2 separate regions of the Homo sapiens genome follow, and region 2 is linked to region 1. A link means that fine-mapping ties the variant in region 1 to the expression of a gene that starts in the linked region. Tissue or cell type: whole blood. Region 1 holds a variant in brackets; the other region holds the start of a gene. All regions are shown on one strand. Distances are from middle to middle.

Evidence for each region. PIP is the estimated chance that this variant, and not a neighbour inherited with it, causes the effect.
Region 2: TIFA starts here. The variant in region 1 is fine-mapped to the expression of TIFA in whole blood (INTERVAL, PIP 0.98).

The regions. Positions count from the first base shown.
Region 1 is chr4:112,224,732-112,232,840 of GRCh38, reverse strand. AP1AR (adaptor related protein complex 1 associated regulatory protein) reads right to left here and starts at 1,054. Exons shown (of 10, transcript NM_018569.6): 1 at 667-1,054. The coding sequence starts at 749. It overlaps AP1AR-DT (AP1AR divergent transcript), which reads left to right and starts at 691. Exons shown (of 1, transcript NR_186684.1): 1 at 691-3,280. RefSeq lists enhancers at 260-309, 334-1,281 and silencers at 520-789, 950-1,229. The variant C/G (reference allele first, on the strand shown) is at 3,709.
Region 2 is chr4:112,281,924-112,290,032 of GRCh38, reverse strand. TIFA (TRAF interacting protein with forkhead associated domain) reads left to right here and starts at 4,129. Exons shown (of 2, transcript NM_052864.3): 1 at 4,129-4,393. RefSeq lists enhancers at 2,398-2,517, 5,027-5,146, 5,177-5,356 and a silencer at 4,077-4,386.

The sequences.
Region 1 (8,109 bases):
CAGGACGTTTGAGTAGCAATCAGGGCAAGGAATTCCTCTCGAAATTTCAAAAACTTAATACGAAAAAATTACACATTGTCCCTGTAGTTATGAGCACCAAGAATCTGAATGCCCATTGGGAACTCTGCAATTCAGCAAGTCTTTGTAGCTACCAGAGTTCATCAGTATCTGGAACCTTATTTTACTCCAGCATCCAAATGACTTCTACTTAAAATCAATCTGAGGCATTAACTCCGGAGCCAGATCCCACCTGCTCTGCCAGGGCTAAAGAGAGGGTCAGATACAGGGATACTAGCTTTGGCGTTAAACCTAAGCTCAGCGCAGGGTGTGTCCAGGTTGCCGTGGAGCCGGTCCTACAGCCCATTAGCGCGAAGCTACCCCTTGTTTCCTGGAGATGATGTCTCCCGTGACTCCTTCCCCGCGTGACAGGGCGCCCTGGCAGGAGGGACACCCCGCCCCCTCTTCTACCTCTTTCCGAGGAGGCCCCAAGACCGGACCCCAGACTGGGCCTCCAAGACGACCACCAGTCTGACGTCTGCTAAGCAGTGAGTGTAGCAGGGCTCTCGACCGCCACCTCCAGCCGCCGGGGGACGGTGAAAGGGATTCCCCGCCGGGGGCCGAAGAGGAGGAGCCACGGGGGCCGGGCCCCTCCCCCAGCGGGCTTACCCTCCGCCGCCGCCTACTCGCTGCAGCCGCCCCGCTTCCTTGCGAAGCAGTCCGAAGCACTGCGTCCAGCAGCAGTTCCCCATCGCATGCCGCCCAGGCGCCGCCGCTCCTCCTCCTCCTCCCGCTCAATGCCCAAACCCAGGCCCGGCAGCTGCATCCGCACGGCACGAGCCGAAATGGGGTTCAAGGACCGAGGGCGGGCCGGCCAGAGCCCGGCGGCGTGAGGGCACGGGGCGACGAAAGACGAGGCGCTAGGGAACAAAGGCAGTGTTTACTCCAGCGGCCGCAGAGCCACCGCTGCGCGAGGGAGGAGCACCGGGCTCAAGGCTCTGGACTCCCTCGCCGTCCGCATGGCCCTTCTCGCCTCAGCTCCTAGCCCAGCGTGAGTGACCGCCTCCAGCTGCCGAAGGAGGCCAGTCCCCGCGAGCCGAGCACCCTGGCCCCGCCCCCAGCGCGCCCAGGCCCCTGCTCGCCGCCAACGCTGCCACACCCCCGGCCTCTCCCGCGCCCCAATTGGGCGCGCTACCTCGGTGCCCCGCCTTCTCTGGCGACCGGCCTGTGCGTCACTTCCGCTCGCTCCTGGTTCAGCCGCCTCTGCCTGCGAGACGGTTCAATTCCTGCGTGCGGACGTTTGTTTTGTTGGACCTTGACCTGACTAGGAAATTTCCCTCTCTCATTGCAGTTTCGGGCATCCTCGTCCGGAGCACGCTGGGCGTGGCATGGCTAAGGCTCAGCCTTCGAACTTTGTATCAAAGGCGTGTGAGGAGCCAGAGTCCCAGGCCGGAAGTCATAAGTGCGAAGGGGCGTTTCTCTGCACGGTGTGCTTAGTTTTTGTTAATACTGCACCATAAGCGGAAAATAGACTCGGGAACTGATTGAGGTTACTTTGAACGCACCAAGATTTTTTTCCGGTCTCTGGTTTGTGTCTTAATTTCCATACTGTTAATGTTTTAGGGAAACGTAATAATGGTGCATTATTGTCCTCGTTTTGTTTGAAAATCAGATCTTCACATAATTTTGGGTTGGGTAGTTGGGGTTCAGAGGAAATTGGCAAGAGGGCTGGGGTTTTTCGGGGACGTCAGCGTTGCCATTCCAAGCATGCTGCCCAGAACTGCTGTAGATGGGAAGAGAAAGCTGCTCTAATGTGTCCGCAGCCCTCTCAAGTGCTACCATATAATTCGCGTCTTGTTTGGCCTCAAGACAGTTGGCCTCACAATAGATATAAGATGTGGTTTAGTAGACACCTCGTCCAGTGGATAGGAGGATGCTCTCATGGACTGGACACATCAAGTTTTTAGCCTGTTTAATTAAACCTAGAAAAATTGTTACATTTTAGAAAGTTTTTATTGATGATAAAATGTTCTCTGAACTCATTTTCTTGCTTCTTTAAATACGTATCTGGTTTCAATCTTAGCACTGCTACTTACTAATGTTTATTTTATTTGGGTTTTAGTTGTTTTGTAATCAGAAGCATAGGATAACATTTGTCCCAATGGTTTGCTTTCAGTGAATGTTGGGATGACCGAATGACTTCCTAGTGAAAGCATTTTCTTTTCTCCTTCCAACCCCTGAAATTAGACAAATGTATTAATGAAATAATCATTAAAATTCAACTATAAATGTTTACAGAAACTGGTACATCTATCCTATGGAATATTTAGTAACAAATAGGAACACAGTATTGATGAACACACCCTGAAATGAATCTGTAGGAAATTATGGTTAAAGAAAAAGCCAATCTCAAATGCTTATATACTGTGTAATTCCATTATGTAACATCTCAGAATTGATAAATTTATGTAAGTGGACAACAGAATAATTGATTGCCATGGGTCAGGGAATGGAAATCCTGCATCTTGTCTATATTAATGTCAGTATTCTGGTTGTGATATTGCAATAGTTTTGTAACATGTCACCACTGGGGGAAACTAGATTAAAGATATACACGGTCATCTGTATATTATTTCTTAAAACTGCATGTGACACAATTGTCTCAATATAAAAAGTTTGATTAAAAAAATGCAGCTATAGACTTGACAGCACTTCCTATAGACATTCTATAAACCGTTATTAAAACTGAATCTCACTTAAAAATAATTTTTTTATAGTAAATCTGTTCTCTCAGTTAAGGATATGAATGATCCTCAGAAGCAATACAAATGAATAAGACATTTAAAAACTTCACTAAGCAAAATAATGCAAATTAAAATGCATGTTTTAGTCATTTGTATTGATTCACTTGTCAAGTTAACAAAGCTTTACAGTTAGAAATATTCAGTATTTGCAAGGATACAATGAAATGGTACTATTCTAAACTGCTGCAGATAATGAAACTCATTCTGAGAAATTATTTGGAAATACCAAGAGCCAGAAACAAACTAAATGCTCAAAAATTGAAGGATGATTAAATTTGCTGGTGTATTCTTGTTATATAGACATAATAAATATATTTTTTAAAACAATATGGAAAAATGCTTGCTGAATAATGTGTGAAAAATCAGGATAGAAAATTATATGTATGTTCCAAATGATGTTTAAAACAAAACATATACATTCTTACATTCTTTCTTACACGTGTTTCTTGAAAATAAAGGCTGGATGGTAAATATCAAAATGCTAACAGTAATTATTTCAAGACTGTGAATGTTGGGAGCTTTATTTCTCTTCTCTATTTTCTCAATTTTGACAATTATTATTTAATACTTCTGTAATCAGAAAAAAATGTTTAAATCTGACCCTTCAGTAGAAAAGGTTGATAACCAGTTCAATTAGAGTTTGATCACAAATGCAAGCATTTAGAAATGCAGAATTTTGCCCCGCAGTTCAGCTAAAACCAGGTTCTTGTCACATGACAAGGAAAACTTAGACACGTGGACACATTGAAGGGTGAGTAGAGCAGGATTTTATTGGGCAAAAGGAAAAAGAAAAAACTCACCAAAGCGAGATAGAGTCCTGTTATCAGGCCCCCACCTCATAGACTGAATCCCAGGCTACTGCACAGGGACTGAAAAGGCACCTCACAGATTGAATCCCAAGCCACCA[C/G]ATAGGAACTGAAGAGGCCAGCCTCCTTCCCCTGCCCTGGTTCCACCCCATTCCCCCAGTGCGCATATGGGCATGTTCACACAAGGCACTGGGCAGGTTCCCTCATCTGCACAAAAGCATCTGATGTGAACACTTGTGGGGCAGGTGGGAGATTTTTCTGGGGACCCCTTTTTGTCTGCCTAGGCATTTGGCTGTCTCCGAAAGTAATGATAACTTGAATATGGGTAGATTATAATAAATTCAGGGGAGCTACTTAATTTTTTTTCTACAAATGTATTAAATAAATTACCAAGCTAATCTTAGAGGTTATTGGAATTTATCATTGTGCAATTTTTCACCAAATTTGACATCAAGAATCTTCATGGTAAGTTTTAAGACTTTTTAAACATTCAGTTAAGTGATGATCTGCTTTTAGTTAAACAGAATTAGCAGGGAAAAAACCCGTAACTGGAATGGATGTTTGAGAGGCAGATAAACTTCATTTTATGGTTGAGAAAGAGTAGTCTTTGAGGAATTAAATGATTTGCTCAAGGTCATACAATGAATTAAAAGTATAATATGAAGAAATCTCAGGCCTCCTGACAGACTTGTGCCTTCTGCCATGCTTCAGTACTGCTTCCTCGACTCTTACATTTGGACATGGGTATAAAATCAGTAACGACCATAGTCACATGTATTCTGATAAGATTTATAAGTTTAATTCATCATTGCTAGAGAGTTCATTTAGAGCTGGGTGTGGTGGCACGTAACTGTAGTCCCAGCTACTCAGAAGGTGGAGGTAGGAGGATGGTTTGAGCCCAGGAGTTTGCGTTCAGCCTGGGGAACATAGCAAGACCTCATCATTTCAAAAAGTTCATTTATATGACAGTTGGCTACGCAGAATATTTAACTTGTCAGTAAGATACACAAACACTTAGATTATCTACAGTGGGACCAAGCACAGTGGCTTACGCCTGTAATCCCAGAATTTTCGGAGGCTGAGGTGGGCAGATGGCTTGAGTCCAGGAGTTCGAGACCAGCCTTGGCAACATGGCAAGAGCCTGTCTCTACAAAAAATAGGTGTGGCGGCATGTGCCTGTATTCTCAGCTACTCAGGAGGCTGAGGTGGGAGAATTGCTTGAGCTCAGAAAGTCAAGGCTGCAATGAGCCGAGATCTAACCACTGCCCTCCAGCCTGGGTGACAAGCCAGACCTTGTCTCAAAAAAGAAAGACTATCTACAGTGATTACTGTCAGCTTGCTAGAGACATCCCACCTGCTTACAGGTAGCAGAACTTCTCACCTTCTTCCCCATCCTTTTCAAAATTCTCTTGGGTACTAGGCTTAATACCTGGGTGACGAAATAATCTGCACAACAAATCCCTGTGATATGAGTTTATCCATATAACGAACCTGCACATGTATTCCTGAACCTAAAATACAAGTTAAAAAAAACCCCGGCCGGGCGCGGTGGCTCACGCCTGTAATCCCAGCACTTTGGGAGGCCGAGGCGGGTGGATCACGAGGTCAGGAGATCGAGACCATCCTGGCTAACAAGGTGAAACCCCGTCTCTACTAAAAATACAAAAAATTAGCCGGGCGCGGTGGCAGGCGCCTGTAGTCCCAGCTACTTGGGAGGCTGAGGCAGGAGAATGGCGTGAACCCGGGAAGCAGAGCTTGCAGTGAGCCGAGATTGCGCCACTGCGGTCCGCAGTCCGGCCTGGGCGACAGAGCGAGACTCCGTCTCAAAAAAAAAAAAAAAAAAAAAAAAAAAAACCCACAACATTTTCTTCTCTCAAGTATTTTATTCTGAAGTTGAAGGGAATGATCTTTTCTCGTAGGTGCTCCGAAGTCCGTCAGGATGCAACGTGTACCCCTAATTGTCTTCTGGATTATGTGGTTCCATATCTGAATCTCTGCTCAGAACTTCTTCTCTATTGACTGCTAATCACTTTTTGTCATTTTGAGATCATTTGCTACTATTATGTTTGGTGTGGAGGTTATGTGTGGTGTGGAGGTTATGTGGTCCCTGCAAAGGGAAGAATTCTGTGTTTTCCATTACGACATTGTTCCAAATATGGACACAAAGTCGTACTTTTAACTCACTGAGCGTAGTTTCGATTACCAAAATTTATACAGAGTACTAGATATGACTACTATAAAATGGAGATAATGAGATAAATTTTGCCTTCGTTGTTAGGATAAATGATTAAGCACTAAACAAAATTTGCCTTTGTTGTTAGGATAAATTACTAAGCACTATCAAGTACTTAGTATAATATAGTTATGTTATAATTTCTATAATGTACTAAATAGGCTATACTATAATTATCTAAAATACCATAAATATAAATAGTAGGTGTTATTATCCACAGACCGAAGGAAATTTTCATCAATATTATACTTTCCTTTGTAGCTACATTCCTGTCATCCAATACAAAACGCTAGTCTTTTAAAATTTCTGTCTCTTAAACAGTCCTCAGGCACACTTCACACCACTACTTGAAATCAGGCTCCAAGAAAATGTGGCATAGGTAGAGGAAAAATTCCCCAACTCTCAGGCCTTGTCTGTCCCATGATTTGCCTCTTTCCCAGATGATTATAAGTGAGAATATCCTCTGACTTAAAGGGAGACCTCAGTCCCTACCAATTAGGAGTGTATTGTCCTGGGAACCCAAATGGAATAATTTCTTCTTAATACGACAAGCTAGTATCATTATTGTTCCTAAAGTCTTATTTATTCAGTCTTAAATAATACCATATGAAAGACCAATAAGCCAGTTCAGGTTTAAATTGAACCAGCCTCGACATTGCCTAATTCATTTGTACATATTTCCTTCCATTATAAGTGAGAATTTTGGTGCACCAAGTCTAGTTTCAGCTCCCATGTACTCAACAATGGCTTGAACAAGAGCACATTTCCATAAGAATAGATAACATTTTGCAGACACATCACAGCTTAAATTAATAGTTAATGAACAAACATTTGTCCAAAAAAAGTCCAAGACAACTAACACTTTATATAATGCAAACAACTTTTTACACTATCACGCAGAGTATTTTGGCTCTTTAAAATCACTTCTCTCAAATTTATTTCTCGTGATGCTCTTTTACTTTATATTTGCATAACTTAATAGTTAAGTAGATCATTTGAGTAATTTTCCAAGAAAAAAGGCACAAAAAGATGTTCTTAAAGATAAAAGGGAAAGTTATTTAACTATTGGCTCAGTCACCAGCAACTCATTTTTTCTGGCCTTTGGATGTATGTGAGATGAGCTTCATTAGTTAGTAACACTGAGTACAATGCACACTAAGTAATTTGCTTCCTTCTTTGATCACCCAACATACACATTTCACAAAGAGAGGGATGAGGGATAAATAGGAACAGTTACACGATTAATATGGAGTCCTTCCTCTAGGCAGAGTTTGTTCCAGATCTCTCTTGCCTAGTTGGAAACCACACTAGTAATTCGAACAAGGGAAATTTAATATGGGAATCAGTAGGTAGGTCAGTGGTGGTTAATGCTAGAAGGAAAATGTAAGTCAAACAGATGTAGCTCCTGCAGGGAGTAGCAACCACCACTGGAACTGAAGAAAAGTGAACAAGGAAAGAATTTAGAAAGTTAGAGGAAGGCCCTACAAGCTAGATATTCAAGTTTCTGATAAGAGTTATGGATGCCATAGAAACATGCTGCCTGCCACTACGGTAAGGGAGAGCATAATAGAAGTTGCCTACCCATGAACTCCCTGTGTAGGCTAGGAAGCACTAGCCACTGAAGCAGGAGGGCTACGGCCACGGTGATAAACACTGCCAGGATTCCTTCCTGCTGATCCACTTGCCACTATATAAACAGAACAGAGGAAAAAGGATGCCACTTCTTCCACCCTTGCAGTGTCCCTGCAGCACCCTGTATTGGGAGATCCTAACATAGAATCAGCCAATGAACGAGAAGGGGTGTCTGCAGAGTCCAGTTTTAGAATAAAAAATCAGAGCAAAGAGGATAGATCATAACTGGCACACGTTTTAACATCCACCCTGGGACAAGAGACAAAGCCTTGGACCCACATAAAGGGAGGAGCCTGAGAAGTATACATAAAGTCAGAACCCTTAGAAGATCTCACTCTGGATAAAAGCCACCTAGTCTACTGGGAGATGAAAACAGAAATTTGTTACTACTTAATTTTTTTTTCAATAGCTTTTGGGGGAAAGTTTATTACTATGGGTGTGATCTGAGTTGGAAAAAAAGGCCTGTCTTCTTTCTAGTTAAAAGAGTTGGAATTCACATTAACCTTAGGGTCTTGGAACCCCAGTCCAGAAATTAACATAAAAAGTCGTTTGGGGCCAGGCATGGTGGCTCACACCTGTAATCCCAGCACTTTGGGGGGCCAAGGCATGCGGATCACTTGAGGTCAGGAGTTCAAGA
Region 2 (8,109 bases), 57 kb before region 1:
CTGTTGCCCAGACTGGAGTGCAGTGGCATGATCTCTGCTCACTGCAACCTCCACCTCCCACGTTCAAGCGATTCTCATGTCTCAGCTTTCTGAGTAGCTGGGACTACAGGTGCATGCCACCACTTATGGCTAATTTTTGCATTTTTAGTAGAGACAGGGTTTCACCAGTTTGGCCAGGCTGGTCTCAAACTCCTGGCCTCAAGTGATCTGCCTGCCTGCCTTAGCCTCTCAAAGTGCTAGGATTGCAGGTGTGAGCCACTGGGCTCGGCTTTAAGTTGTTAATTTTAATTGTGGTCACTTGACTTCAAGAACAGGGAAGAGGAAGAGATTTGGGCTGCCGCCTGTCCCTCATTTAGGAACTAGTGGAAAACGATTTAGGTCAGCTATCTCAGGTGATTCTAAATGTTTTCACTTGTTAGCAGAGAGCATCCACCATGAGGCGGTGAGACACACTTGAGCTGAACTGCACATAATGTAAACGTCAGGGCCGGACAGGGGAGAGTTAGACAAGTGTGGGTCTCAGGTGCTTAGAACGCCTTGGACAGAAAGCGAGGTCATATAATTCATTTATCAGCAAGTAACACAAACATGCACCTCTTCTTTTTTTTTACATGGTGTGATTGTATTACCACAAATTAGCTGCTTTTATTTTTTATGTTAAATAACATACAGTAGGCGTTTAATGTACATCATCTTAATTATGGGCTAGCAAAAATATCTAAAACTCTTAAGATTCTTGCCACGGAAAAACTTTGTATTTCCAAACAACCAAGTAACTTAATTAGAAATTATATTGACCCATGTCATGGGGATGAGGGATGATGATAACAGGAAGTGATGGCATGCCATCAATTGAATAGGAGAGCCAAGATAAATTTTTACTTTTTTTTTAAACGTTAATACAATTTAGAAATTTCAAATTGTTCAAAGCTGGATCGAAATATAATGGATTATGGGCATTTTATGTTATTTTCAAATTAAATGATGGGTCATTGGTAATTAAAACAGTAAATCCCTCCTTTCTGTATCAATAACACATGCCTACTGTTTTCGTCTATTTTGAATACAATCCTAGCCCAACTTTTAGTATAGTCATTTCCCTGAAGGGTTTCTTGTAATTTTTTCCTGAAAGCATTTATGTTACTTCCTATAACCCCAACACCACTCAGGGCATTTGGTTGTAGCAAGTGAGGTTAACCAAGTTTAAAATCCTGTTGAATTCACAGGAGAGTTTAACTGCATCTGTCTAATTTAAAAGATGTTGGCAGCCCATGAGCAGTTCTATGTGCAAGAGAAAGTTTCACACTTTAAGGCTATGTCAGGATCAGATAATGAATTTATCAAAATGACACGATCACATTGAAACAAAAATATTTTTGTTTTTTGGTTTTTCTTTTCAAAAAGAAAAACCGCAATAAGAGGGCCTCAAAGGTGATTTCCAGCTGCTATGTTCTCATTAGCATATTTGTAACGGTGGCACACAGTGGAAGCCTTACATTTCCTCAGTCTGATGTAACTTTGGCCAAAGTACTTTCAGACTTTAGTAATTTGCTTGTTTTAAGAGAAATAATAGCCTGAGATGAGGATATTTGTATAAACCCCTTCCTGAAATGTCTAGTACCTTTCATTGCATAATTAAAATTCCTATTGTGTTTCTTTAACAGTAAAGACATTTTCGTTATCAAAGAATGATGTTCATGTTTTAAATAATAACTAAAATAATCTCTTCATTAAAAATAATCATTTTTAATGGTTTTATACAAACTGAAACAATAATAAAGCCCATATTACAAATTACTTTGCCTAATTTAGATATGAGTGACTTAAAATTGCTTCTTTTGCAAATGTCCCCTGGTGATTTTCAGAAAACTTAATAAATTGAAAGTACAGAAATAAATAGTCACTTTTTTGGGGGCTCTGGCCTTATTCAAGCTTTTAGAAATTTTCTGGGCCTTTTGTCAGTTTTCAAATTAGAGATTGGAAACTCCAATTCTGATAATACTGTTCTACTGTATGAGTTCACTGACATAATCAGATAGCACGTCTTATCTTCCACCTGCTCTCATGTTCATCAGCTGAGAGAAGGTACCCTGACTGTCACTTCTAGAGAAGAAATAATAAATGTTGATGATTAACAAAATTGCAGCCCTTACGGGAATCTGCCTCACTTGTAAATGTACCCTTCTTTCCCCACAGTCACTGTACTTGATTATACCTAGCTCTGACACAGTTCAAAACTTAACCGCACCCATAGCACCTCTTTATCAGGTGGACATCAGTGTCATTTTATTGCCAGTGAAACTGATCCACAAACAAGCAACTCTCCTGAACTCAAGGACAGAAGACAGACAAGGGGCTTCCACTCATTTCCATCATCAGAATTTGGTTTCCCATGCGAAGAAGTAGGCCGCTGTGATCTCAGCCAAGCCAAGTTTTGTCCTCCTTCCTCTATCTATCCTCAGTCTTCTTTCTCCTTCTATGGCAAGGGTCCCCAACCTCTGGGCCATGGACTGGCAGTGGTCCATGGACTGTTAGGAACCCAGCGGCAAAGCAGGAGGTGTGCTCAGGGCCAGCAAGCGAAGCTTCATCTGTATTTACAGCTGCTAACCGTCACCTGTGTTACTGCCTGAGCTCTGTTTCCTGTCAGATCACTGGGGCATTAGATTCTTATAGGAGCAGGAACCCTGCACATGGGAGGGATCTAGGTTGCCCGCTTCTTATGAGAATCTAATGCCTGATGATCTGTCACTGTCTCCCATCACCCCCAAATGTGTCCGTCTAGTTGCATGAAAACAAGCTCAGGACTTCCACTGATTCGACATTATGGTGAGTTGTATAATTATCTCATTATATATTACAATGCAATAATAATAGAAATAAAGTGCACAATAAATGAAATGGGCTTGAATCATCCTGAAACCATCTCCCGTGGCCCCAACCCCAGTCTGTGGAAAAAGTCTTCCATGACACTGGTTCCCAACAGGGATTGCTGGTCTCTACAGTGTCTATCCTCTCTCTCTCTTTTTCTTTAAACAGAGTCTCACTCTGTTGCCCAGACTGGCGTGCAATGGCGCCATCCCGGCCTCACTGCAACCTCTGCCTCCCGGATTCAAGTGATTCTCCTGCCTCAGCCTCCCGAGTAGTTGGGATTACAGGCACCCACCACCAAGCCCAACTAACTTTTGTATTTTTAGTAGAGATGGAATTTCGTCATGTTGGCCAGGCTGGTCTCAAACTCCTGGCCTCGTGATCCGCCCACCTCGGCCTCCCAAAGTGCTGGGATTACAGGTTTGAGCCACGGCACCCGGGTCTATCCTCTCTTGACACCTACTCTCCTTAGGTTCTTCACACTTAGGTGATTCCAAATCTTTTCACTGAGGCAGAAAGGTAGCATTACCTTCTTCTAAGCTATAAAGGACTCCTGAGAGGTGTTTCCCATTTCATCATGTACCAGCTTTTACTTGTGGACTCTGGATGTCCATTACGATGCAAGCGGCAGGAGAGAAAGCGACTGGACTGCTCTGCTGGGTGTAAGGCGAGGGCAACCTGGAGCAAGTTCAAATCCCGCCTCTGCGGGAGGCAGAGGTTGCAGTGAGCCGAGATGGCGCCACTGCACTCCAGCATGGGCGACACGGTGAGACTCGTCTCAAAAAAAGAAAAAAAGAAAAAAAAAATTCCACTTCTGCTCGCCACACTCCACCATTCTCTGAGCCTCGGTTTACTCATGTGTAAGGGGGACTGCGATGATTAGAGGAGCTCGTGCATGCCACGCACTGGCTTGCTTGGTATCCTTGGAGTCACCGAAAGATTAGTTCAGCTCCCCGCCTGCCCACGCCCTGGGGCAACACTCATTTTGGGGAAAAGTCCTCCTTAATGCTGAAGTGATCCAGTTCCCTTCTTTTCTCTAGCTCGCCAATCGGGCTGGAGGAGAGGCCACTCGTTTGGGAAGGCGCGGTCCGGGTCGGTGTACCGCGCACCAAACCCTGCCAGAGAACTGAGAGAGGCGGCCAGGGGGCTGGGTACCTGGTGAGAAAGGCGCCAGCTGCCGGGTCACCTCGAGAGGAAGGAAGGGGCGGGAGCGCGAGTGGAGCGGGCGGAGCCTGAAAACCTCCGCGCCACCGCTGCGCTCTTTACAAAGGCCCCGGGCGCGAGAGGACGTGCTCTGCCAGCCAGTGGGAAGGCAGGCCGCGCGCGCGGGAGCGCGGGAGGATCGGCGGCTCGCGGTCACTGGTCCCTGGCTCGGTTCCCCGCACCCCGGGGCTCACACTTACCCGCGCGGAGGAGCAGCGGCCGGGTGTCCACCCCCATCCTGCGCCCAGTCTCCTCGATTCCCCTCGCTCTGAGCCGGGAGAGCCGAACAGCTGAAGAGAGTTCACTGACTCCCCAGCCCCAGGTACTTGCGGGGCGGCGGGCTGGGGGTGAGGTGGGGACTGGCCCTTTTCTGTTTATCCCGCAAAGACAGCAGCTTTGTCCAGGAGATTTTGGGGGTGTCGGATCGGAAGTCATCCCCCGCTGCTCCTGCTCACCTGGCACACGCTCACCATATGCTAAGGAAAGCCTGCAAAAATTATAGACAGCACCTCCCTGTTTTATAAAATATGAGAATATTTACATAAATGAGGAAACATTGGAGATGGGGGTGTGTTTTCTCTGTACTTTGGTATTCTTTTCAACGTTTTTCTAATCAGAAAACAAAAACGAATGCCATTTATGCAGTGTGGCTCCAGAGCAGTTGTGCGTGACCCCCCTCCCCCGCTTGCCAACTGCTACGGCCCCACGCTCTCGGTGGCCAAGCGAGACCTTTCTGAGGGGCCCTGGGCTCCCTGGAGTGCCGAGGTCCTTGGTCCTAGACCTGACTCCTTGCTTCAGTCTGGTTCATGAGAGAAATATAGTAATCCGTTGTTTTCTGGGACTTTCCCCAGATTTCAGATTGAAAGGTGGAATTTCCCAAATCCTCTGAAGCCAAAATCCACACTGAGCCTCACTGCGGATTTCCGCAGCCACCAGGAAGTGGGACTGGACCCCAGGTCAGGCCAGTCAAGTAGAGTGGGAGAAAGAAAATCTCATGTCTGAAAGACACCGAGCTTTCCTAAGGGTTTCCTCCTGCTGTTTGGTTTTCACTTTTTTTTTTTTTTTTTGATTCTTTGTTTTTGCAAGACCTGTGGTTTTAGTATTAATTCTGCCAAACAGCTGTGCCAGAGTTCACAAATATCTTCAGAGCCACACTTCAGGGTGATCCTGTTGAGCAGGGTTAGACAGGAGGATAACTTGGTCCTTTGCTCTGCTTCCAAGTTTCTGTTCCCCTCCTGTGTGCTCAGTGTTCGGTATTCGTTAGGGAGAAAAGCCTTGAAACTTCCTACTTGCAACCACCCAAAGACATACTCTTTCTTGAGAATATATTCAGGGGGAACTGGGGAGGCGAGGGGGTTGGGGGGAAATGAAAGTAAACATTTTCACCATCCAGAGCAGACCCCATTAGTTTGGTCAATCCTGTTTTAAAAAATAGACTTCTTAAAGCATGAGAAATCTGGTTGGCATGCATGACCACCCAGGGGTGCCAAGCTTTCTGTTAAACTGCTTAGACATCTGGGTCCTTGTAGCGAAAATATTTCTGTATATGTTTTTGTTTATGGCATTTTAAGGCCGAACACCCTTTGGCAAGGAGAGGTGGTATGTCTCTTCACGGGCTTTGCAGGACCTTAGTGAGTGTGTGTGTACGTGTGTGTGTGTGTGTGTGTGTGTTGTGTTGCAGGGAGGGTAGCAGAGGTGGAGGTGCTGTTTTTGCACATAGCACCTCTACACGTATCCATTCTTCTTTCCCCAGAGAGGAGTCAGAAGCCTTGCCCTCGATCTAACTCTTCTCTTCCCAACTCTAAGCCTCCCAGGTTAAGTGTATACATCCTGATGTCCAGCACAGAAGAGCTGGACACTCAAGATGCAGCATCTATGCCTTCTGTATTCAGCTTTCAGAGACAGAGTTCCCAACTGCAGTGCTTATTTTTATTTCTATATTTATTGTATTTCCTTTGTTAACACAGATATTATTGTTTGTCAGATATTAATCAGTGTTTTACAACTTTTCCATGTCAGATATCACAGTTTACCCCTTTAATAATACTTTGCTAATCTCCAACCACTGTCAATTCCATAAAAATCAGAGGTTGGTGATTTTGTAAGGAAAATATTTGTTAAGTGTTTGAATAGATATTGAAGTGCACATGGTATAAAATTCCAAAGGTGTAGAGTGTGTGTGCAGTGGAGAGTAAGTCTCCTTCCTATCCTGGGCCCCCAGTTTCTGTCTCCAGAGGTAACCATTGTTATCACTATATAAAATCATTGTTGCCCTGTTTCTTTGATAACTTACGACTAACAGATTTCAAAATGCTGTTTTGAGCAAATGTGCACCAATGATTTTTTAAAATCTAACAATTTTAACTATATTATTTTAATTGTCAGCTTCTGTCTTTCCTGTTTTTCTGCTGACCACTCTGAAATGTCAGAGTGTTCAGGTCACTTTGTAGAGGGACTCTGTGGCTTTGAGGATAAACAAATAGATTCATTTCTAAGTTCCTTGAGGTCAGAGATCAACATGGTCTCCAAACAACCTGCCACAATTACCGATGAGTACTAGGTCCATGCTAACATTTATACACCCAGGCTTACTGATACCCAGGTTACTGATATTCACCGTAACCTGGTGCTTCAGAGCCTGTTCCTCCTATGAGGTAGCACTAATGGTGTATTTCCCTCCCCAGTATTAGATTCTTGTTTGGTGCCTTGCTGGTTGTAGCCCACACACATTTATGTCCCCCTTCTCTACAGGTTAACTGCTAAAGTTTGTGAAGTAGCTGGTAACCAGGGAGGCAGTGTTTGTAATGGTTAAGAGAGGATGCATTGGAGTTTGAGTCCTGTCTCTGACATTGGATTTATGATCTGGGCTGGTTTTTAAACCCTCTGAGATTCAGCTCCCTTATCAGTGAAGCAGTGATTCACAGGGTTATTTTGAAGATTAGATGACCTGTTGTCACCAAAAAGTAGGTTAGTTGCCCGCTGCATGCAGAGTCCAATTAACAAGAGTGAGGTCTGGTACAAAAAAAAAGTGAATTCCTAAGCTAGCTTGGAGAAGGGGGCACAAAACGTCCTGCCTTTATCCACACCCAGAATGTGCTGCTTCACTTTTGGAGCAGAAAGTGGGCCTCTTTTATAAAGTAGGGTGGGAAGTGAGCCAGAGCAGGGGGTCCCCCGCTTCCCTGGTGCTTTATCTACCAGACAGTTGAGTTGACACCTTCCTGGGCAGAAATATAAGTTATATAAGTGGCCAAGTGGGCATACTCTCACCATGCCCTCCTAGTAGGTGTGAGTTCAGAGGCCACCCCCTGGAGGTGAGAGTTCTGTGGGGACATGCTTTGGTCTGCAAATCGACTGTCAACTCTCCAGGAGAGATCAAAGTTAAGGTTGTCTTGGAGCACATAGTTAGATATACTTGCCCTGTAGGGAATTTCTGGTCAGGAAAGGTGAATGGTTACATTTGCATTTCTGAAGGTCTAAGTAGGAAGTGGGGCACAGGGAAAAGAGAAAATAATTAAAAAAATTAAACTATGACTTAGAAAAGTGGAGGTACTTGGTTACAGTGTATCAGGGTATCAGCAGTCTGCCTGGCACATGAAAGGCATGAAATAAGTAATAGCCCTTATTCCTGTCTGTATTAGTTTGTTCTCACACTGCTAATAAAGACATACCTGAGACCGGGTAATTTATACAGGAAAGAGATTTAATGGACTCACAGTTCCACATGGCTGGGGAAGCCTCACAATCATGGCAGAAGGCAAGGAGGAGCAAGTCACATCTTACATGGATGGCAGCAGGCAAAGAGAGAGCCTGTGCATGGAAACTCCCCCTTATAAAACCATCAGATCTTGTGATACTTATTCACTATCACAAGAACAGCATGGGAAAGACCTATCCCCATGATTCAATTACCTCCTATCAGGTCCCTTCCACAACATGTGGGACTCGTGGGAGCTATAATTCAAGATGAGATTGGGGTGGGGACACAGCCAAACCATATCACTGTCAGAGTTTGCTGTGGTTTTATACCTTCATAAGATA